2 separate regions of the Homo sapiens genome follow, and region 1 is linked to region 2. Evidence: fine-mapped expression QTL. A gene starts in region 2. The other region holds a variant in brackets. All regions are shown on one strand. Distances are from middle to middle.

Region 1 (4,393 bases), 360 kb before region 2:
GGGCTGCATTTTGCTTTCGTCACTTAACACCATGCCAAGGCTGTCTTTCCAATAGTACATATAGATCTATGTCATCCTTTAAAATTTGTTCAACAAGACCCTTATTGACAAACCTTTGCATGTTCTGCCACACAGTGTTGCATTGAGCATTTTTGTCCAGATATCCTTGTATACTCTTCCAAGTGGGATTCCTAATTTGTAGCATTTTCTTTTTAACAGATACTGCCAAGTTATGTCCCATCTCTGTTTAGTTTGAATTAAAACAAGCTCAAGCCATCTGATGCCAGGTCAGCAAGAAGTCTGTTCTTTTTCTCCTGGGGCCTCTTCCTTGGCCAAGATCCCCAAGAGTTCTGCTAATCCAATGAGAATAGTTCCCTTTTCAGAGAAAAAAACTGGAAAAGCTGGTCAGGCTGCCAGTAGGGCCCATTTGGGCTATCTTTTCCCCTAACGCTATTGTATTAGTCCACTTTCTGTTTATTATAACAGAATACCTGAAACTGGATAATTTATAAGAAAAGAATTTTTTTTTCAAGATGGAGTCTCACTCTGTCACCCAGGCTGGAGTGCAGTGGCTCGATCTCAGCTCACTGCAACCTCTGCCTCATGGGTTCAAGCGAGTCTCCTGCCTCAGCCTCCCAAGTAGCTGGGATTACAGAAGCATGGCACAATACCCAGCTAATTTTTTTCTATTTTTAGTAGAGACAAGGTTTCCCCATATTGGCCAGGCTGGTCTTGAACTCCTGACCTCAGGTGATCCACCCACCCTGGCCTCCCAAAGTGTTGGGACTATAGGCATGAGCCGCCGCGCCTGGCCAGGAATTTATCTTTTACAGTGATAGAGACTGAGAAGTCTAGGGTTGATGGGCTGCATCTCGTGACAGCCTTCTTGTTGGTGAGGATTCTCTGAAGAGTCCCAAGTGAGACAGAGCATCACATAGCAAGGGATTGAAGTGTGCTCACTCAGGACTCTCTTCCTCTTCACATGAAGCCACCAGTTCCACTACCATGATAACCCATTAATCCATGAATGGATTAATCCATTCTTGAGGGCAGAGCCCTCATGATCCAATAACCTCTTAAAAGGCCCCCTTTCTCAATACTGCCACATTCAGGATCAAGTTTCAACATGAGTTTTGGAAGGGACACTCAAACCATAGCAGCTACCAAACGTTCAATGCTGAAAACAAGTCGCCATGCAATGTAATATGTCCCTGTCCGTTGCTGCATTGATCTTCCCACCTGGGAGATGAACCTGATGGGCCCCATTGTTTCTTCTGGGAGATAATTCTCACTCCTCAGTGATGCTTACAGCCAACAGGGCATTCATCCTGAGCTCTCGGGGCTACTGCTTATTATTTTGCACTCAGGTTGACAGCCCATCGTTCCCACTAAGTCTGTCCTCCATGCTAGCGTGGCTGGGTTGGACTTTTTCCTGTGCTTCACCCACCCTCTCCCCAGCACCACCAGATTCTCATATCATGAACTGATTAGCAATTTATTGTCATCTTCTCTCAGAGAAACTCTTCCTTAGAGACGGTTGATGTGCTTTCCCACTTGAACCACTTCTCAGCAGAGAAGTTCCAGGCCTGGGACCGGGCACTATTCTAGACACAGGGTACCTTAGTCTCTTTTGTGCTGCTATAATGGAAAACCACAGATAGGGTAATTTATAATGAGCAGAAATTTATTTCTCATAATTCTGGAGGCTGGGAAGTCCAAGATTGAGGTACCAGAATCTAGTGAGGGCCTTCTTCCTGCATCATTCCACAGCAGAAGACAAAAGGGCAAGAGAGTGAACTCAAGCCCCCTTATAATCAGCATTAATTCATTCATGAGGGTGGAGTTCTGCAGACCTAAATGTCCTCCTTTAGGCCCCACCTCCCAACACTGTTATGTTGGGGATTATGTTTCCAACACATGCATTTGGGAGGACATATTCAAATCATAGTACAGGAGATGCAGACAAAACAAAGAAGTTTTTCTGCTCTCAAAATGCTTCCTTTCTCTGGGGAGCAGGAGTAGGTAATAAATATGTAAGCAAGATAATACAGTCATTCCTCAGTATCTGTGGGGGATTGGGTCCAGGACACCTGTGAATACCAAAATCCGCACACACTCAAGTTCCTGACGCTGGTCTTGTGGAACCCAAGTATATGAAAAGTCAGCCACCCATTTCTGAGAGTTTCGCATCCCTCAAATACTGTATTTTCAATCCATGTTTGGTTGCGGATGCAGAACCTGTGTATATGGATAACTGACTATATTTACTGATAAAAGTTCGTGTACAAGTGGACCCACACAGTGCAAACCTGTATCATTCAAGGTCAACTGTACTGAATAATGATAAGTGCTACAAAGACAAAAGGCCAGATGAGGTGATGGGGAGTGGCTGTCTGGGCTCCCTTCAGTTGAGAGACAGGAAAGCCTGACTTGAGGCATCAGTGAAGCT[C/T]ACCATGTAAAGATGTGTGGCACAGCACGCTAGGCAAGGCCAAGACCAGCGACGAGGCCAGTGCGACTGGAGCAGAGTGACAGTGATGGGCAGGGAGGGGGAGAGCACTGGGAGATGCCCTACAAGGTGCGGGGGCAGGGCCACAACATGGATGGGTCATGCCTAGTACCCCCAGGACAATGACCTCTAAGGACTCTTCCAGCTTCAACCTTCTCAAGACCTCCCTCAAGACTTAAGAGGCCCTTAATGCAAAATATGACTCCTTAATTTGACCATCTAGATTTTGTGACTTTCAATTGGGAGTTTTCTTATTTTGATTCCAATTTTTAATCATTATGACCAGAAAAAAGTTTCTAACTTTATGGCCACACCTTTTCATATCATATATTTCATCTCAATACAATCTTATATACACAGCCCAATTTCGTTAAAAGACTATTCTTGAGTAAAGATTAACATAATTTACTGGTAAATATCTCAATTGACATTTAGCATACAAATGAAATCAAAAGGTCAGGAAATGAAAACTGCTTCATAGTTTTTACAGAAGCTGCACCTGCCCCAGATCAGTGATTAGTACCAAACAGAAAGGCTAATTTTCCCTATTGTTGCTTCTGTTGTTTCCAACCACCCCTTCTGCTGTGATCCCCCAGGCAACAAATGAAGCCATTGTGAAGTCTTTTCTGGTCCTCTCAATGGGCAATTACACATTTTTTAAGACAATAAATTTTGTTCCTAGTGCAGCTGATTACATTCATTTATGAAAATGACTAAAGGCAGTGAATCAATTTTTTTTCTGTCTGGTGATGTTAAGATAATCACCAGAGCCATAATAGAAAGTAGAGTGGACCTGGAATCAGGAAACCTGGAGTTCAGTCCCATTTCTTCTACCAGCAAGCTGTGTGATTTTGAGTAAATGATGGCATCTCTCTAAGCCTCTATTTTCTTATCTGAATTAAATGGATAAGTGTACTCCAACTCAGAGAGCTATTGGGGGTGAGGGGACATCCAGAAGTCTTCCAAGGCATTGGTAAACTTCCATTTCATTTCATATATATGTGTTTGTCATATTATTCATCGTTAAATTATCTGTACACATTTCTTTTCTTTCTTTTCCTTTTTTTTTTTTTTTTTTTGAGACAGGGTGTTGCTCTGTCACCCAGGCTGGAGTGCAGTGGTGGGATCACTGTTCACTGCAGCCTCAGCCTCCAGGGTTCAAACAATCCTCCCACCTCAGCCTCCTAAGTAGCTGGGATTATATATGCATGCCACTATATCCAGCTAATTTTTAATTTTTTCATGGAGAAAGGGTCTTACTATGTTACCCAGGCTGGTTGGGCTGAAATCAATCTTCCCACCTTGGCCTACCAAAGCACTGGGATTACAGACATGATCCACCACACCAGGCCCACATTTTCTACATGTGTGATATGTATGAATATTTCACAATAAGTTTCTAAAGCAGGCAATAAATAGCTGTTGACATACTTGACAAAAAGTAAATACAATATAAGTTTTCCTCTGGATCTCCTAACAGAATAAATCTAGATACAATACAAAAATTATTTTCCCCTCACATCAAAACATGGCATTTTGAAAAATAGTTTAATGGAAAGAGTAATCAGTGAAATTTTTGAAAAAGACAATGATTGTATCATGTTTAGTACAGCTCCCTTCCACCCTGGCCCTCCATTTTCCCCTCACTTGAGGTTTTCTAAATCTACACAAATATTCTGGAAAGATAAAGAGATTATCTTAAAAGCAGCAAGAGACAAACACATAGAAGCATTTCTGTGTGCAGCACTGTTTTACATGAACAAAAGTATGTTATATGTGCTGCTCTATATTTGCATTTTTTCATTTATCTTAGAGATCTTTCAGTAGCAGCCTATGAATTTAGCACAGTCAGATTTGTTTTTTCTGAAGCTCGCTGGAGCAGTGTGG
Region 2 (4,393 bases):
TAATATCTTAAAATCAAAAGTCTTTATAAAAGCAACGAAAAATCTGATCTACACTTTAATTTTAAAAAGGGGTAATGAGGTTATGAGTAATAGGATCTATATTAGACATAACAGGGATTAGAAAGCATTTGATCAAAGGTGGAAAACTGCAGTAAACAGATGTATAAGAGTTATCTATAATCAACTCAAGTGAAACCACAGACGGCTGTGGGTCACAGAGAGATTGCACGGGAAGACAGCATGGGAAATAACACTCTTCTGCATGTCATAGATTTTTAGGTGCTGTCACTAGCCTAGTAAGGCAAGATGCCTGAAAACCAGATAGAAAAGACTGTCCTCCTTCAGTAGCCAGGATGCTGAGAGAGCTCCTGATAAGACTAAGATAAAAATAAGGATGGATATCAAAAGTAATATCTAGAGGAAAGCAAATGCTTTATCACTGTTAATTCAAGCTGGTCTCAATGAATGATCATACTTGGAAAATATCCTTACCTCTCATCCATCTTCTCATCTGTAAAAAGATTAATTACACCTACCTCCTGGGCTTATTGTGAAAGTTAAATAAGATAAAGATGAAACAAGACAAACGCAATGCCTGCCACACAGGAGGCATTCAGCAGAGGGTAGCTACTGGTATTTCCCAACTTCGCTTTCCTCTGCCTCTGACTCAAACCAGGCCCCATTAAGGCACATAGAGAATTGTAGCTCTATGTTCACATGTATAGAACTCCCAAGAGGGCAGAATGGGGCTCTCCATGGCATGATAGAGTCAATACATGACTGCACAGCAAGGTCCCTTTCAAAATATTTCAAAGATAGAAGGACCTGATAGGTAAACATATACCGGCTTAAATATGCAAAATACATTCTCCTTCATACTGATGCTCCTTCATTCGGTAAAGGGCCAGAAAGAGTTTCACTTTAAGGGAAAGATATAGATAAGATCCTCTTTCTTCCCATTGCTGTCTAAGGTGCTTCAGGAAAGAACACTGAAAACTGATACAGATCCCAAATGTAAAAAGGCCATCACATAGCTCACAGTTAATTATAAGTAATTTTAATGAAACAATTTGTTCCCTCAGGTTTCCATGTTCTTCCCAGAGGTGTAATGCTATACACCCAAGACACACACACTTATAAATTTGTAATAAACGCAGCCCTCCAGCTCACCACAGTTCTTGGCTGCTGCTTAGCGACAGGTGTCACATTCGCGGTTGCCAGTGAGCCCAGAGGGTGTAATTTCACTTCTACATAAAGAAGCATAATCGATAGAACCAGAACCACCCAGTAGGAACAACTGCACCATTCCTGACTCATCACGGAGCTTGTTTTCACAGACAACAAAATTCACCTCAGTTGGGCTTTGCGTAAATATAGAGTAGTGTGATGGGGCCTGCAAATTGGGTGAAGGTGGTTCACGGGGATGCCAAAGCCCTAGTCCTCTTCGGCCTCCCTCACGCGACAGATCTAGTCTGAGCCTGGGCGGGGCACCGGGAACTCGATGCAGCTACCTAGGGAGGGAGCCCTGGCGGTCCGCCCCTCCCGCTGCAGGACCAGCTTTGGCGACCACTGCGGTGGCCAGCAGCGCGCGCTGAGCGAGCCCTGGGAGCCGAGCCGCCCGGGGACGCACGGCCGTCCCTGCGACTCCCCATCCCCCAAACCCCCACCCGCAGTCCCACCCCCACCCCCACCGCACCCCGAGCCGCACCGCCTCCTGCGCGGTAGCTGCCAGCCCGGGCCGCGGCGGCGCGCCCTGCTCACCGTGACACCGTACTTGAGCGCGATGCCCTGCAGCGTGTCGCCCGCGCGGACCCGGTGCTCCACATGGCGCTCGATGACGCCGGCGCCCAGCGGCGCCCGCACGCTGGCGGTGCTGCCGTACGAGCGGGTCTTGGTGCGGGCCAGGCTCAGCGACAGCTCGGCCTCCTCGGACTCGGAGCCGGAGCGCGAGCGCGGCGGCGGCGAGGGGGCCGAGGGCCGCGGCGCGCGGGGGCCGCCTTCCCGCAGGGACAGTGCGGGCGAGGAATCCGCCATGGGTCCTGCCGAGGCCGCCGGGTCGGGGAGCTTGCCAAGGGGGCGGCGCCTCCTCCTCCTCCGCCGCCGCCGCCGCCTCTTCCTCTTCACAGGGGCTGCAGCAGGCCGTTCCGCGGGGGCGGCGGACGGGAAGCCGAGGCGGGGAGCCGCAGGCCGGGCATGGCGGGCGCCTCCTCCTCTGCGTCCTGCCTGCCCCGGGCGCCCGCGGCACACGCACCTGCAAGGTTAAGAGCGAAAGCAGCTCCCGCCGCGGCCTGCCGGTACCGGGAAGACCCTGCAGAGCGAGGGAGCCGGGGAGCGCTGAAGCCCGCGGCCGTTGGGGCTAAGAGAGGGCTATCTGCAGGCGTCCTAGGCCCCAGGTGGACCCCTGCTCCATTGGCGATAGAGCCCTGGCAGAACCCTGCCCTGGCCACGGCGAAAAAAAAAAAAAGCGTTGCTCTGCCTCCTTTATTGATTCCCCAGCAGGAGCCAGCTTGCACAGACCTTCCAGCTCTGCCAATGCCAAGGGTACTTCCCTCCCCCCACCCCAGTGACCTCAAAGTCCACGTCACAGTAAAACTTAAGATCATCAAACACACACAGACAGCTTCTCCAGGTCCATCTCAACAGCCTCAGAGTCCAGTCCTTTCAACATTGCACTAGGAGGGATAGTGCTTCTAAGGCCTAATGGGTGGCCTCAAAATAACCCCCCTAGTTGTTCGGGTTTCACACTTTGTACACTAGTGCCAATTTAAGTCCTGGCTGCCTCGAAAGGCTGGCCACATACAATTCATTCTCCAGGCTCAGTAGTTGGAATTTACTGTCTGCATTCATCTTCTCTTCGTCAGTTTATTCTTTGACACCCTGAAATCGCATCTCCCTGCCCCGTATTGCTATTAATATTATAACCACCAAAGACCTCTTATCTGTACTCTTCATTTGAACACCGTCTACTCTTGAACACCCTTTCAACACACTGTATTATACACAGAGTGGGTACACATTTACTAGCATCTAGTGCCTGGTTTCTGTGTTATTTTGGACAGCTTTCCAAGAAGAGGTACCTTGTAGGAAGGTCCGGAGCCTGGGGGTTTGATTCGTTGGCTGAAGTTTTGGTATGTTGCTGTGCTGGACAGAGGCAAAGCTAATATTGCTCAGGAGAGAAAGGATGGGAGAGGAGCAAGCTTCCACAACACCATCCCACTCAAAACTCCTACAATGGCTCTCTGGGGACAACAGCATTACTAAAAACCTACATTGGCATTCAAGCTATTATTTCTATTTTTATTATTCATGGTCTGACCATACCCCATCTATAACTCATTCTGTATACTCTACATATTCCTGCCAAACAGAGCCTCTGAAACTGGCCTCCTTGTTCCTACTTTCATACCTTGCATGTTATTCCCTCCAATGGTAACACTCTTCCAGTACCCTCTATTACATTGTTTAAATCTTTAAGGTCTGTCTCAAATGATACATCCTCCATGAGATTTTTCCTAATTCTTCCCAATGGTCCCTTTTTCCCACCTGCCCAACTGTTACTGTTTCTTCTTTGAACTCCAAGAGGTTTGTATTAATACCTCTGGTTTAGTATTTAACTCTCTGTGTTTTGTGTTTGTACTTGCATGTACATGCATGAGCTTGTCTTATCTCCTCCAACAAATACGTGCTCCTGGGAGGCATAACTGGGTCTTACTCATCTTTTTAGCTCCAGCAGTGCCTAGCTCAGTGGAATAAAAAAAAAAATAAATACATAATTACAAGTGGTTGAATTGAGGTGTAGTAAAAAGATCCTGAATGCTAATTTAGATTGTTTAGCATAAGTCTGCCATGCATAAACTTTTGGGTGGTATCCAGTGTGTCCATTTCAGGACCCAAGAGAGAGGCAGAATTTGAGTCTCAGTATATAGACAAGATCTGGTAATGTTTCAAGAAAGAAGTCTCTTCCTTCAAAGAGTTTACAATCTAGGAATGAGACAGCATATAATGTTTTCCACTAAGAAAAAGTTTACTGCATGGCTGGAAGTTTTAATCTGAAGATTAAAGAACTGAGCCAGGCGCAGTGGCCCATTCCAGCACTTTGGGAGTCTAAGGAAGGAGGATAGCTTGAGCCCAGGAGTTCAAGACCAGCCTGGGCAACATAGTGAGACCCATCTCTACAAAAAATACAAAACTTAATCGAGCATGTGGCCTACTCCTGTAGTTCCAGCTACTTGGGAAAGTGAGGTGGGAGGATTGCTTAAGCCCAGTAGGTGATCTCTGCAGTAAGCAGAGATCATGCCACTGCACTCCAGCCTCAGCAACACAGTGAGACCCTGGGGTTTTTTGTTTTGGTTTGGCTTTGGGGTTTTCTTTGTTTGTTTGTTTGTTTTGAGAT

What was found. PIP is the estimated chance that this variant, and not a neighbour inherited with it, causes the effect.
Region 1: its variant is the best candidate, but not a certain one, in a credible set for the expression of LYSMD2 in whole blood (TOPMed, PIP 0.54).

The regions. Positions count from the first base shown.
Region 1 is chr15:51,371,171-51,375,563 of GRCh38, forward strand. All of the region lies in intron 1 of GLDN (gliomedin), which reads left to right. Among named protein-coding and RNA genes, the nearest start is that of GLDN, 32 kb to the left of the region's middle. The variant C/T (reference allele first, on the strand shown) is at 2,450.
Region 2 is chr15:51,735,589-51,739,981 of GRCh38, forward strand. It overlaps LYSMD2 (LysM domain containing 2), which reads right to left and starts at 2,067. Exons shown (of 3, transcript NM_153374.3): 1 at 1,762-2,067. The coding sequence starts at 2,034. RefSeq lists silencers at 1,516-1,725, 1,796-1,935, 1,946-2,385.